2 separate regions of the Homo sapiens genome follow, and region 2 is linked to region 1. The links come from fine-mapping of genetic effects on gene expression. Tissue or cell type: blood mononuclear cells. Region 1 holds a variant in brackets; the other region holds the start of a gene. All regions are shown on one strand. Distances are between the middles of the regions.

The links. PIP is the estimated chance that this variant, and not a neighbour inherited with it, causes the effect.
Region 2: it holds the start of NDUFB11, and the variant in region 1 is fine-mapped to the expression of NDUFB11 in blood mononuclear cells (TOPMed, PIP above 0.99). The same link has a PIP of 0.9 or more in fibroblasts, gastroesophageal junction, lung, stomach, subcutaneous fat and unexposed skin.

The regions. Positions count from the first base shown.
Region 1 is chrX:47,108,092-47,118,717 of GRCh38, forward strand. No RefSeq gene overlaps it. Among named protein-coding and RNA genes, the nearest start is that of NDUFB11, 31 kb to the right of the region's middle. The variant G/A (reference allele first, on the strand shown) is at 5,229.
Region 2 is chrX:47,142,172-47,147,272 of GRCh38, forward strand. NDUFB11 (NADH:ubiquinone oxidoreductase subunit B11) reads right to left here and starts at 2,531. Exons shown (of 3, transcript NM_001135998.3): 1 at 2,302-2,531; 2 at 443-573; 3 at 45-269. The coding sequence starts at 2,508. The coding sequence ends at 146. RBM10 (RNA binding motif protein 10) reads left to right here and starts at 3,050. Exons shown (of 24, transcript NM_005676.5): 1 at 3,050-3,314. RefSeq lists an enhancer at 3,074-3,343.

The DNA.
Region 1 (10,626 bases):
CTTTGAGTAAAGCAGATTACCCTCCATAATGCACACGGGCCTCATCCTATCAGCTGAAGACCTTAATAGAAAAAGACTGATCTCCCCAGAAGAGGGAATTCTGCCAGGAGACTGCCTTCAGACTCACACTAAAGCATCAATGCTTCCCTGGGTCTCCAGCTTGCTGGTCTACCTTGAAGATTTTGAACTTTGCCAGCCTCCACAATCATGTGAGCCAATTCCTTAAAATCTTTGGGGATGGATAGATAGATAGATAGGTAGGTAGATAGGTAGATATAGATACATATATCCTAATATATCCCATTGGTGCTGTTTCTCTGGAGAACCCTAATAGACAGAGAACCCTGGAGATCTGAAGAGCATACCCTTCAGTATTCAAAAGAGTACTTACTGATCAGTATATGCGTGTGAGGAAACTGCCTGGGGCCAGGGAGAGAACACCTGAAAGGATTAGAGGGAATAGTGCCTCATGCTCACACAGAGCCAGTAATAGTGCCTGCTCCCACCAGTCAGATTGGAAAAAACGCATAATTTATGAGGTATTGGGTAGAGTCCTCAGGAAGTTCTTTTCTCAGTTGTGGAGAATAATTAGCCCTACACAAAGCACTGCTCGACTCCATCAAACAGATCATAAAAGCTAGACCTTAAAGGATAAAAATATTTCCAAGGAAACTTAACTGCAACTCAACAAAGTTCAAGAAGATTTATATTGAATACAAAAATATCCAGCACCCAAAAAGAAAAAAAAAATCACAATGTTTGACATCCAATCAAAACTTAATAGGGCCGGGTGCAGTGGCTCACGCCTGTAATCTCAGCACTTTGGAAGGCCGAGGTGGGTGGATCACCTGAGGTCAGAAGTTCAAGACCAGACTGTCCAAAATGGTGAAACCCTGTCTCTACTAAAAATACAAAAAAATTAGCCAGGTGTGGTGGCGCATTCCTGTAATCCCAGCTACTCGGGAGGCTGAGGAGAATCGCTTGAACATGGGAGGCGGCCACATCAGTGAGCCGAGATGGCGCCACTGCACTCCAACCTGGGCGACAGAGTGAGACTCCGTCTCAAAAAAAAAAAAAGAAAAGAAAAACTTAATGGGGCCAGGCACAATGGCTCATGCCTCTAACCCAGTACTTTAGAAGGCTGAGGAAGGTGGATTATTTGAGGCCAGGAGTTCCAGAGCAGCCTGGGCAACATAGCAAGACCCTGTCTCTACAAAAAATTCAAAAATTAGCTAGGTGTGGTGGCGCATGCCTGTAGTCCTAGTGTGTCCGGAATTGGTGGTTTCTTGGTCTCACTGACTTCAAGAATGAAGCCGCAGACCCTCGCGGTGAGTGTTACAGCTCTTAAGGTGGCGCGTCTGGAGTTTGTTCCTTCTGATGTTCGGATGTGTTCGGAGTTTCTTCCTTCTGGTGGGTTCGTGGTCTCGCTGGCTCAGGAGTGAAGCTGCAGACCTTCGTGGTGAGTGTTACAGCTCTTAAGGCGGTGCTTCTGGAGTTGTTCATTCCTCCCGGTGGGCTTGTGGTCTCGCTGGCTTCAGGAGTGAAGCTGCAGACCCTCGTGGTGAGTGTTACAGCTCATAAAAGCAGTGTGGACCCAAAGAGTGAGCAGTAGCAAGATTTATTGCAAAGAGCGAAAGATCCAAGCTTCCACAGTGTAGAAGGGGACCCGAGCAGGTTGCCACTGCTGGCTCGGGCAGCCTACTTTTATTCTCTTATCTGGCCCCACCCACATCCTGCTGATTGGTAGAGCCGAGTGGTCTGTTTTGACAGGGCGCTGACTGGTGCGTTTACAATCCCTGAGCTAGACACAAAGGTTCTCCACGTCCCCACCAGATTAGCTAGATACAGAGTGTGGACACAAAGGTTCTCCAAGGCCCCACCAGAGTAGCTAGATACAGAGTGTCGATTGCTGTATTTACAATCCCCGGGCTAGACATAAAGGTTCTCCAAGGTCCCACCAGAGTAGCTAGATACAGAGTGTCGATTGCTGTATTTACAATCCCCGGGCTAGACATAAAGGTTCTCCAAGGCCCCACCAGAGTAGCTAGATACAGAGTGTCGATTGCTGTATTTACAATCCCTGGGCTAGACATAAAGTTTCTCCAAGGCCCCACCAGAGTAGCTAGATACAGAGTGTCAATTGGTGCATTCACAAACCCCGAGCTAGACATAAAGGTTCTCCAAGGCCCCACCAGAGTAGCTAGATACAGAGTATCGATTGCTGTATTTACAATCCCCGGGCTAGACATAAAGGTTCTCCAAGGCCCCACCAGAGTAGCTAGATACAGAGTGTCGATTGCTGTATTTACAATCCCTGGGCTAGACATAAAGGTTCTCCAAGGCCCCACCAGAGTAGCTAGATACAGAGTGTCGATTGCTGTATTTACAATCCCTGGGCTAGACATAAAGGTTCTCCAAGGCCCCACCAGAGTAGCTAGATACAGAGTGTCGATTGCTGTATTTACAATTCCTGGGCTAGACATAAAGGTTCTCCAAGGCCCCACCAGAGTAGCTAGATACAGAGTGTCGATTGGTGCTTTCACAAACCCTGAGCTAGGCATAAAGGTTCTCCAAGGCCCCACCAGAGTAGCTAGATACAGAGTGTCGATTGCTGTATTTACAATCCCTGGGCTAGACATAAAGGTTCTCCAAGGCCCCACCAGAGTAGCTAGATACAGAGTGTCGATTGGTGCTTTCACAAACCCTGAGCTAGACACAGCTAGGGTGCTGATGGTGTATTTACAAACCTTGAGCTAGATACAGAGTGCCGATTGGTGTATTTACAATCCCTGAGCTAGATATAAAGGTTCTCCACGTCCCCACCAGACTCAGGAGCCCAGCTGGCTTCACCCAGTGGATCCCGCACCTGGGCTGCAGGTGGAGCTGCCTGCCAGTCCCGCGCCGTGCGCCCGCACTCCTCAGCCCTTGTGTGGTCGATGGGACTGGGCGCCATGGAGCAGGGGGCGGTGCTCATCGGGGAGGTTCTGGCCTCACAGGAGCCCATGGAGGGGGTGGGAGGCTGAGGTATGGTGGGCTGCAGGTCCCGAGCCCTGCCCTGCGGGAAGGCAGCTAAGGCCCGGCGAAAAATCGAGCGCAGCACTGGTTGGCTGGCACTGCTGGGGGACCCAGTACACCCTCCACAGCCACTAGCCCGGGTGCTAAGCCCCTCATTGCCCGGGGCCGGCAGGGCCAGCCGGCTGCTCCGAGTGCGGGGCCCGCCAAGCCCACGCCCACCCAGAACTCCAGCTGGCCCGCAAGCGCCACGCGCAGCCCCGGTTCCCGCTCACGCCTCTCCCTCCACACCTCCCCGCAAGCTGAGCGAGCCGGCTCTGGCCTTGGCCAGCCCAGAAAGGGGCTCCCACAGTGCAGCGGTGGGCTGAAGGGCTCCTCAAGTGCTGCCAAAGTGGGAGCCCAGGCAGAGGAGGCGCCAAGAGCGAGCGAGCGAGGGCTGTGAGGACTGCCAGCACGCTGTCACCTCTCACTAGGTATTCTAGAGGCTATTTGGGAGGATTGCTGGAACTCAGTAGTTCAAGGAGGCAATGAGCTATGATGGCATCACTGCACTCCAGCCTGAGTGACAGAGCTGACCCTGTCTCTAAAAACAAACAAACAAACAAAAAACTTACTAGTCAGGCCGGGCATGGTGGCTCACGCCTGTAATCCCAGCACTTTGGGAGGCCAAGGCAGGTGGATCATGAGGTCAGGAGTTCAAGACTAGCTTAGCCAACATAGTAAAACCCCGTCTCTACTAAAAATACAAAAATTAGCTGAGTGTGGTGACGGGCACCTGTAATCCCAGCTACTCGGGAGGCTGAGGCAAGAGAATTGCTTCAGCCCGGGAGGCGGAGGTTGCAGTGAGCTGAGATCGCACCACTGCACTCCAGCCTGGGCGATAGGGCAAGACTCCATCTTGGGGGGGAAAAAAAAGCTTACTAATCATGCAACAAGGCAGGAAAATATGAAGACAACAGTCAATCAAGGAAAACCAACCCAGATTTGATGCATAAATTAATTAGCAGATAAGGACATTAAGAGTTATTAAAGCTATGTTCCACAAGTTCATAAGAGTTCAACAAGAGACATAGAAGATATAAAAATGACCCAATGGTGCAACATTTTTAAAAGAATGAATTTTAAAAACTGTCAACCTAGGGAGCAAGATGGCTGAATAAAAGCCTCCTGATCATCCTCTTCACAGGAATGCTGAATTGAACACCTATCCACACAATAAAGCACCTTCATAAGAACCAAAAATCAGGTGAGCAATCACAGTACCTGGTTTTAACTTCCTATCACTGAAAGAGGCACTAAAGTGGGTAGGGAAGACAGCTTTGAATCACCTACACCACCCCGCCCCCATCCCCTGGTAGTAGGTGTGTGGCAGAGAGAGAGAATCTGTGCACTTGGGGGCAGGAGAGCACAGCAATCGTGAGACTTTGCGCTGGAACTCGGTGCTTCCCTGTCACAACAGAAAGCAAAAACCGGAGAGAACTAAGCCGGCACCCATAAGGGGAGCACTTGGACCAGCCCTAGCCAGAGGCAAACTGTCCATCCCAGCAGTCAGAACCTGAGTTTTGGCAAGCCTCACCACCGTGGGCTAAAGTGCTCTGCAGTCCTAAATAAACTTGAAAGTCAGTCTGGGCTACAAGGACTGCCGTTCCTGGGCAAGTCCTGTTGCTGTGCTGGGCTTGGAGCCAGTGGATTTGGACACACAACCCAGTGAAACATCAGCTGGGGTGGCCAAGGGAGTGCTTGAGCCACCCCTCTCCCAACCCCAAGCAGTGCAGCTCAAACCACTGAAAGAGATTCCTTTCCTCTACTTGAGGAGAGGAGCGGGGAGAGTAAAGAGGACTTTGTCTTGCAACTTGGAAGCCAGCTCAGCCACAGTAGGATATGGCACCAGGCAGAGTCCTGAAGTCCCCATTCCAGGCCCTAGCTCCCAGATGACATTTTTCACACTTTTTTTAGAAGGAGTCTCATTCTGTCACCCAGGCTGGAGTGCAGTGGTGCGATCTCGGCTCACTGCAAACTCCGCCTCCCAGGTTCAAGCAATTCTCCCTGCCTCAGCCTCCCAAGTAGCTGGGATTACAGTCACGTGCCATCACGCCTGGCTAATTTTTGTATTTTTAGTAGAGACGGGGTTTCACCATGTTGGCCAGGCTGGTCTCAAACTCCTGGCCTCAAGTGATCCGCCCACCTCGGCCTCCTAAAGTGCTGGGATTACAGGC[G/A]TGAGCCACTGTGCCTGGCCCCAAATGACATTTCTAGACACACTTTGGGCCATAAGAGAACCTGCTGCCTTGAAGGGAAGGCTCTAGTCCTGGTATAATTCAACATCTGCTGACTAAAGAGCCCCCGGGCCCTGAATAACAAACAGTGGCACCCAGGTAGTACACCATGGGCCTTGGGTAAGACACTGAAACATGCTGGCTTTAGGTGTGACCCAGCATATTCCCTGCTGTGGTGGCCACAGGGAAAGACCCCCTCTGCTTGAGGAAAGGAGAGGAAAGAGTAAAGGGGACTTTGTCTTGCAGTTTATGTTCCACTTCACCACACGGGGGTAGAGCACCAAATAGGCTCTTGGGGTCCCTGATTCCAGGCCTTGGCTCTTAGACAACATTTCTGGACCTTCCCTGGGCCAGAGGAAAGCCCACTAGCCTGAAGAGTGAGTTGCAGGCCTGACAGCATTCACAACAAGCTGAATAAGGAGCCCTTGGGCCCTGAGTGAATAGCAATGGTAGCCAGGCAATATTTGCCAAGGACCTGGGTCAGTTTTGGCCATGGAGAGAGACTCCTTTGCTTATGGAAAGGGGAAGGAAGAGTGAGAATGACTTTGTCTTGTGGCTTGGGTGCCAGCTCAGCCACCATAAAATAGAGTACCAGGTAGATTCACAAGGTTTCCGTGCCCAGGCCCTGGCTCCTGGATGGCATCTCTAGGCCTGCTCAAGACTGGGGAAACTTGCTGCTCTGAAGGGAAGGACACAAGCCAGGCTGGCATTGCCACCTGCTCATTGTAGAGCTCTAGGGCCTTGAGTGGACATTAGTGGTAGCCAGGCAGTGGTTACCATGGGCCTTGGGCACGACTCAGTACTGAGCTGGCTTCAGGTTTGACCTGGTGCAGTCCCACTGGTGGTGGCCACCGGGGTGTTTGTGTCACCTCTCCCCTAGCTCTAGGTGGCTCAGAACAGAGAGAGAAACTGTGTGTTTGGGAGAAAGTAAAGGAAGAGAACAAGAATGTTTCCCTGGTAATCCAAAGGAATCTTTTGGATCTTATCCAAGACCACAAAGGTGGTACCTCTATGAGTCTACAAGAGCCACAGTGTTATTGGGCTTGGAGTCCCCCCAATGCAAATATGGCTTTGATGACAAAAAACATAGATCACAACACCCAAGTCCCTTTGAATGCCTGGAAAGGCTTCCCAAGAAGGTTGGGTACAAACAAGCCCAGGATGCAAAGATTGCAGTAAATACCTAACTCATCAATGCCCAGGCAAGCATTATGACCACCCAGGAAAACATGACCTTACCAAATGAACTACATAAGACACCAGGTATCAATCCTGGAAAGACAGAGATATGTGACCTCTCATACAGAGAATTCAAAATAGCTGTCTTGAGGAAACTCACGGAAACTCACAGATACTCAAGATAACATAAAGAAGGAATTCAGAATCCTATCAGATAAATTTAACAAAGACATTGCAATAATGAAAAAAGAATAAAGCAGAAATTCTGGAGCTGAAAAATGCAATTGACAGACTGAAGAATGCATCAGAGTCATTTAATAGCAGAATTGATCAAGCAGAGGAAATAATTAGTGAGCTTGAAAACAGGCTATTTGAAAACACATAGTCAGAGGAGACAAAAGAAAAAAGACGCCAGGCGTGGTGGCTCACGCCTGTAATCCCAGCACTTTGGGAGGCCGAGGTGGGCGGATCACAAGGTCAGGAGTTTGAGACCAGCCTGGCCAAGATGGTGAAACCCCACCTCTACTAAATATATAAAAATTAGCCAGGCCTGTAATCTCAGCTACTCAGGGGGCTGAGGCAGGAGCATCACTTGAGCCCAGGAGGCAGAGGTTGCAGTGAGCTGAGATCGCGCCATTGCACTCCAGCCTGGGTGACAGAATAAGACTCCGTCTCACAAAAAAAAAAGAAAGAAAGAAAGAAAGAAAAAAGAACAAAAAAGAAAGAAGAATGCCTACAGAATCCAGAAAATAGCCTCAAAGGGCAAATCTAAAAGTTATTGGCCTTAAAAAGGAGACAGAAAGAGAGATAGGGAAAAAAGTTTTCTGTTAAGGGCTAATAACAGAGAACGTCCCAAACATAGAGAAAGATTTCAATATTCAAGTACAAGGTTACAGAACACCAAGCAGATTTAACCAAAATAAGACTACCTTAGGATATTTAATAATCAAACTCCTGGCCAGGCGTGTCAGCTCATGCCTGTAATCCTAGCTTTCTGGGAGGCTGAGGTGGGTAAATCACGTGACCCCAGGAGTTTGAGACCAGCCTGGGCAACATGGCAAAATCCCATTTCTTTCTACCCAAAAAAAAACCCACAAAATTTAGCCAGATGTGGGGTCATGCGCCTGTAGTCCCAGCTACTTGAGAGGCTGAGATGGGAGGATCACTTGAGCTCAGGAAGCCAAGGCTGTAGTGAGCCATGATTGCACCACTGCACTCCAGCCCAGGCAACAGAGCAAGATCCTGTCTCAAAAATAATAATAAAACCCCAAGGGACAAGGATAAAGAAAAGACCTTAAAATCAGCAAGAGAAAAGAAACAAATAACACTATGGAGCTCTAATACATCTGGCAGCAGACTTCTCAGTGGAAACCTTACAAGCCAGGAGATAATGGCATGACATATTTAAAGTCCTGAAGGAGGCTGGGCACAGTGGCTCACGCCTGTAATCCCAGCACTTTGGGAGGCCAAGGCAGGCAGATCACCTGAGGTCGGGAGTTCAAGACCAGCCTGACCAATATGGAGAAACCCTATCTCTACTGAAAATACAAAATTAGCCAGGCATAGTGGCACATGCCTGTAATCCCAGCTACTCGGGAGGCTGAGGCAGGAGAATCGCTTGAACCCAGGAGGCAGAGTTTTTCGTGAGCCGAGATCGTGCCATTGCACTCCAGCCTGGGCAACAAGAGGGAAACTCCATCTCAAAAATAAAAAAAAAAAACAAAAAAACACTAAAAGATGTGCCAGTTGAAAATGATAACTACGACAGCATTTCAAGACATAGTACAATAAGATAGAAATAGGAACAACAAAAAGTTAAAAAATGGGGGATGAGGTTAAAGTGTAAGAGTTTTTATTAGTTTTCTCTTTGCTTGTTTGTTTGTTTGTTTGTATGTTTATACCATCAGTGTTACTTTGTCATGAGTTTAAAATAATGGGTTATAAGATATTTGCAAGGTTCATGGTAACCTCAAACCAAAAAACATACAACAGATACACAAAAAATAAAAAAGCAAGAAATTAAAACATACCACCTGAGAAAACCACCCTCACTAAAAGGAAGACAGAAAAAAGGAAAGGAGGAAGAGAAGACCACAAAACAATCAGAAAACAAACAACCAAATGGCAGGAATTGATAAAGCTCAACATCCCTTCATGATAACAATCCTCAAAAAACTGAGTGTAGAAGGAACATATCTCAACACAATGAAACCGTATATGATAGACCCACAGCTAGTGTCATTCTGAATGGGGAAAAACTGAAAGCCTTTCCTCTAAGACCTGGAACAAGACAAGGATGCCCACTTTCACCACTGTTACTCAACATAGCACTGGAAGTCCTAGCTAGAATAATCAGACAAGAGAAAGAAATATGGCGGGGCAGGATGACTCACAAGTGTAATCCCAACACTTTGGGAGGCCAAGGTGGGCGGATCAACTGAGGTCAGTTCAAGACCAGCCTAGCCAACATGGTGAAACCCCGTCTCTACAAAAAATGCAAAAAAAATTAGCTGGGTGTGGTGGCGTGCGCCTATAATCCCAGCTACTCCGGAGGCTGAGGCAGGAGATAATCGCTTGAATCCAGGAGGCAGAGGTTGTAGTGAGCCAAGATCGAGCCACTGCACTCCAGCCTGGGTGACAGAGCGAGACTTCGTCTCAAAGAAAAAAACGAAAGAGAGAGAGAGAGAAAGGAAAAAGGGCATCCAAAGTGGAAAGGAAGAAATCAAATTATACTTTTTTGCAGATGATCTGAGCTTATATTTGGAAAAACCTAAAGACTCCACCAAAAAACTATTAGAACTGATGAACAAATTCAGGAAAGTTGCAGGATACAAAATCACCATACAAAAATGAGTAGCATCGAGACCCCCATCTCTACAAAAGCATAAAATAATTAGCCAGGTGTGGTAGCACATGCCTGTAGTCACAGCTATTTGGAGACTGAGGAAGGAGAATTGCTTTAGTTCAGGAGGTTGAAGCTACAGTGAGCCACACTATAAGAAATGTTACAGAAGCCGGGCACGGTGGCTCATGCCTGTAATCCCAGCACTTTGGGAGGCCGAGGCAGGCGGATCACGAGGTCAGGAGTTCAAGACCAACCTGGCCAATAAGGTGAAACCCCATCTCTACTAAAAATACAAAAATTAGCTGGGTGTGGTGGCATGTGCCTGTAGTCCCAGCTACTTGGGAGGCTGAGGCAAAATAATCGCTCGAACCCAGGAGGTGGAGGTTGCAGTGAGCCAAGATCACGCCACTACACTCCAGCCTGGGCAACAGAGCGAGACTCCATCTCAAAAAAAAAAAAAAAAAAAAAAAAAAAAGAAATGTTACAGAAATGCATCAAGCAAAAGGAAAATTCTCCAGTTGTAAATAAATAAATGGTAATTATATGGATAAATATATGTATTTTCTATTATTTAAATATTTTTAAAATATAATTGGCTCCTTAAGATTTACAACATATATAAAAGTGGAACGCATTAACTAATAGCATAAAGGCTAAAAGGAGAGAGATAAAAGTATAATATTGTAAGGTTTTTTTATACTACACATGAAGTGATATACCCCTTGAAAGTGGACTCTGATAAGTTAACAATGTATACTATAAACCCTATATGTATAAATATAGTAACAATATATACTATATAGTATAACAATGTATACTATATAAGGCAACCACTAAAGCAAAAAACAAAGACTTATAGCTTATTAGACAACAAAAGACATGAAATAGAATCATAAATGTATTTAATTGATCCAAAAGAACACAGAAAAAAATTAAATTTGGAACAAAGAACAGACGGGACAAATAGAAAACAAATAGGAAGGTGATAGAATCAAATCTAACTACCACATCAATATGACATTAAATATAAGTGGTTTAAACACTCCAATACAAAGGCAGACATTGCCAGATTGGATAAAAAAGCAAGACCAATCTCCATGCCCCCTACAAGGAATGCACTTCAAATACAAAGACGCTAATTAAAAAAAGTAAAAGGATAGAAAAAATATATCATGCTCATATTTTCAAAAAACTTGGAGTGACTATTAATATTGAAAAAGGTCAATTTCAGGGATAAAGAAAGTCAAGAAGATATTAAGAGCCTTAACATTTATAGCCTGAAAACAGAGCTCAAAATGCATGAAGCAAAAACTGATA
Region 2 (5,101 bases), 31 kb after region 1:
CCCCCATCCCATATCCCCTTCACAACACAATCAACACTAGCGAGTCAGACTTTCAGCCCCTTTAATTAGGTGCTCTGAGAAGAGGTCAGAATGGCAGGCAGGGGGTGGGGAAGGCGGTGCTTCTTGAGCCCCACTTAGCAACTGGTCACTCATCCTCTGGCAGCTGGATCTTGCTGGGGTCGAAGCAGTTGGATTCCATGATGGGAAGGCCATTGGCCTCTCGGTATTTCACAAGCCTCTCAGCTTCGCGGCGGGACCACTCTTTCATCCTGGTAGTGCAAATAGCAGGGGTAGACGTGAGGGAGCCTCAACTGATACCAATCCCTCATCTCAGCTCCCCATTCCCAATGGTGCAGGAACAAAACTCCTGGCAGAATCCCCTTCAACCTCCATCCCTGCCTCTGCCTCTTACCCATCCCACGCTCTTGGACACCCTGTGCACCTGTAGTCAGGCAGATAGGCCACAAAGGTGCTGCCAAGGACCAGGATGATGGAGACGCCAAAGAAGAAGACAAGTCGCATGTTCCAGACGTCCAAAACGGGGTCCTTGTCATAACCATGGGAGTCTGGGTTCTGTGGAGAAATAGAGGTCAATGAGGGCTTCCTGCTGCTCCACAAAGCCTTATTCTGGCCCTGCATAACTTGGTCTCCATGTGCCCCTCTCACTAAATTCCTCTGTTTCCATTCTTGGGATATGTCAAGCTCCTTCCCACTGCAGGGCCACTGCACTTGCTGCTCTCTCTGCCTGGAAAGCCTTTCTTCCAGCTCTAGTCATGGCTGGATCTGTCTCCTCATTCAAGGTTTTAGATTCATCACCACTTCCTTCAGGAGGCACTCCCTAGTTACCTTGTCTTTCAAAGTTGAAGCATAGGAAACTGCTATTTTTATAGGTCACAAATGGTTGAATACTGGCAATTTCTTATAGCTCAAGCTAATGAAATAGCCCCCTACACCCAAGTCATTCTCTATCCACTTATCTTGCTTAACTTTGTCTTCACATCCTCTCTTCCTTCTGTCTCTTTCTAGTCTATGTTTACCTAAGTAGCATACTTTCCCCATTCTCTGTATATCATACATTCTCATGTTATATTATCTATTATACTACTTTGTATTATTGTTTTCTAATATTTTACTGTTTATTTTCTGTCTTCCCCACTATCATGTAAGCTCTATGAGAGCATGGGCTTTGTCTGATTTCCACACTGCTGTATCCCCAGGGCCCTGAACTGAGCCTGGCATACAGCAGGCCCTCAATACATATTTACAGAATGAACAAGCATCCTATATATCCAAGCCCCTTAACCAGAGGTTAGTATTGATGAAGTACTTATTATGTGCCAGTCTTTTCACATAGAAACACCTCACAATATCTCAGTGAGGTGAAACATGGCAATAATAAACACATTCTAGTGCTGAGTACATACTTACGAAGTGCCAGCTGCTGTTCTGACCATTTTTACTCATTTAATTACATGAGGCAGGTGGGGTGTCCTATTTTTTAGAAGGTGTCCTATTACTGTTCCCATCTTACAGACAAAGAAACTGAGGCACCAAGGGTTTATGCTACCAAGATCACACGGGTGGGTAACCGTCAGTGCTGCCTGATTTCACAGCGTCTGCTATTAATACAGCACAGCAGACCTGGTAGCCCTAAATTCAAATACCAGTTCCACCTCCACCATGTATTCAGTTATGTGAGCTAGGGCAATCCACTTAACATCTCTGTGCCTCAGTTTCCTCATCTGTAGGATGAGTATAATAATAGAGCCCACCTCGAAATGGGGTTTGTTTCGAGTATAAGATGAGCTAATGCATGTCAAGTGTTTAGAACACAGACGGGGCCCGGAGCGGTGGCTCATGCCTGTAATCCCAGCACCTTGGGAGGCCGAGGCGAGAGGATCGCTTGAGCCAGGAGTTCGAGACCAGCCTGGGCAACATAGCGAGATCTCGTCCCTATAAAAAAAAAAAAAAGAATGCAGACGGCAACGAGCAAGTGCCATATCGGTGTTTAGTATTATCGTTGTACTATACTGCTTCTAACGTGTTTTGAGCGCTGTCCACTTGAGGTGTGATTTCTGTCTGCAAAATAAAACCAATCCTGCCTCTGGCCCTGGAACGAAGATACCGAGAGACAAAGGAGGAACACAAGGTAGGCAAAATTCCCAAGTCTTCTAGGCTTTCGCCGGCCGCGCAGTCCTCTACTGCCTAAGAACGTCCTCTACAGCGCCCCATCTGCCGATCCCGGACTGACCCCTTCGGGGTTCCGTCCCCACTACCCCCCCCCCCCCCCCCGCCTCTCACCTTCTCATACAAGTTTTCGTCCTCGGGTTCTGGGTCCTCTTGCCACGGTGTGGTCGGTTCTGGGGGCCGCTTTCCCGCCACAGCGGACGGGGCGACCACAGTCCTGGAGAAGCTAGATTCCCAGCGGACGCGGGCGGCCGGGAGCCCTCGCGTCGCCGCTGCCGCCAAAAGACGGCGAGCGCTCAAACCAAACAGCCCAGCCGCCATGACAGATGGTGCTGCAGGGTCTCAGGGGCGGGGAAAGAAATGCGACTGTGCGCAGCTGCAGTGGGTGCGAGCGCGACAATCATCGCCCCGCCTCCGCCACGCTATATAGGTCCCAGATCTGATTTGGTTTTCCAATGAGGCGGGGCGTTGAGCAACCCTCTTTGCCTCCAGTTGTCGTGGCTTCGTGGGGCCAACCATTTTCGGCCAGGCTGAGAAATTTCTTATTGATGGGTCTGCTCATTTCCTGCATAGGAAGAAATCGGTGACATTTGGGTGGATACAGTTCCCAGCCAATCGCCCCGAGTTCCCTCGCCCACTGGGGAAAGAGGCAGAGCTTCCGCTAGTCTTTCATCTTCAAAGGAAATCAAGCTTCTAAAAAGCGGGCCCTGCCGAATTGGCTAATAGCTACTCCTTTTCTCCACTAGGGGAGCGTTCGCAAGGGGTGTGGGGAGGTGGCCAGCGCTTGCCAATCAGAGGAGGCCAGGGCTGTCCCCTAGCGGGCGGTGACCAATCGCCGGGGCCGGCCAGAGCGCGCTTCCTTAGTAGGTGGATGGTGGTCGGAGCGCCGACTCCCTTCTCGTCGTCGCCATTTTGAGCTGGTGACTGTGGCCGGCTGGGAGTAGGCGGCAGTGAGTTTCCCTGGGAGGGCAGCGCGCTTGGCGCTTCTCCCCTCCCCCCGATCTGCCTCCAGTCTCGGACTTGGTTGTTGCGCGCTCCGGCTCCGGCTGAGCTGGGAGAGTTGGAGGAGGTGGCGGCGGGCAGAGGTGATGTCTGGGAGCCCTTCCTTGACAGCCCGGGCCGAGAAGGTGAGCGTCGACGCTGGTCGTGGGGGCGGAGGTAAGGGGCCCGGGGCGGGGACGTAGAGGAGGCGCGAGGGCGGACTTCGGGTCGGGGGAGATGCGCGGAACGGAGGGGTTGGTGCAATGTCTCAACCCGGGAGGGTTTTTTTTTTTTTGGTTTTTTTTTTTTTTTTTTTTTTTTTTGGTGTGAGCAAAGGCGCGTGCGCGACTGGGACATGGGATGGGTGCATGCGGGTTGGGGGAAGGGAGGGACGGATGGGAGTGGGCTACTGTGGATCACTGTGTCGGCTACATCGAAGTTTATCAGTGGGGAAGCGGTTGTCTGCGACTTTGAGTTTGTGCATAGGAGAGGGGATGCTGCTCTGTGTTACTCTGGTGTTTATCGGTCCATGGGGAAATATTCTGTGGTTCTGGTCTCTATTCCTGGGGGATCGGAGGGGGGATGTGACTCTGGTCTTTACCCTTTGAGGGGGGGCGGTCTGTGACTCTGATCCTTATCCATGGGGCGGGGCTTGGGGGACGACTGTCTTTTGATTGACCCTAACCCACTTATTGGGTGGGAAGGGGCATGCAGGGAATGTGTGTGTGACTCATTGCCCCTTCTTTTGGGGAGTTTGTATCTGTGACACTGACGCTCATCCATGGAAAGGGGACCCACTGTGTAATTGTGGTCCTTACTGTGTGTTCCTTCTGTGATGTGGGCCCGTAGTTATTTGGGGCTCGTGTCTGTGACTGGCCCTTGGCTGTGGTGGATGTTACTGTGTGACTCTGGCCCCTTTGCCAGAGTCTCTTGAAGGTTTTTGTGCTCTCAGACGCCAGTGCCTCTGTGTGATTCTAACTCTTGCCCACCTGGGAGCAGGTAACTCGGGTTCCCTGTGGCTTGAGGAGGAAGAGAAAATTGGAGTGTGTTTGTCTGTGTATGTGTGTGCACGAGCATAGAGCAAAGGTGTGGCAGCAACCTAGTGTTGAGCAGGTGCTATTATTGCCTGGCTTTACCTGCTTCTTATTCAGAGGGTGGGGCCTGAAGATCTGGGATTCATCCTGACCTCTGGCTGGGTCACAGGGTTCTCAGGACTCCCTGAGTTCTCACCACAGCCCTGAGGGTTGGATGAAGTGGCTGCTGCTCCATCCCAATAGAAGAGCACAGTGGTTCAGAACAGCCTCCAAAAGGGCCCCTTTTGCCTCTGGAAACCGGGCTTGAGCCCTGGGGAGGGAACCACCTTAGGACCGGGCTGCACATAAGAGACAGGGCTCAGGGCTGAGCCAGTTGCTGTGTGAGGGCCAAGGCTGTGTTGGCCAGGAGCCCAGGGAGGTGGCAGCTGTCTCGTCGCCAAGTTCGCCCCTTCACACACCCCCCCAAGAGCCTTTCATGGTCTTTTGCTGCCTTATAGGGGACAGCCAGCAGCTTGTTGGGAGGATGAGATGGTCCCTTGGGGCCTGTGGAAGGAGCCTGGGGCCCCCATTGTTGTGAAGTCTTGTCTGATGTGCTGAATCTCAGGCAAGACTTTCAGCCCTGAGAGTCCCCTACCCCCACCCTGGGATGCAGCCCCAGGCTTGAATTTGTCTACCTGTCTTAGGTGGCAAAGCCCTGATCACACTGTGGGTGGCCCCGCCAGGTCTCTCTGCAAGATGCCCCCTGTCTGCTGAAGTCCTTGCTGTTTTCTAGGGCAGTGGGCTCTAGCCTTATGTTTGCGGGGAAAGGGAGGAGCAGGCCAAGTAGGGGCTACCTTCATACTGTGATGCACAGGAGTGCTGGGAGCTGGAAGACAATGTCCCTGGGCTAAGGGGCAGCG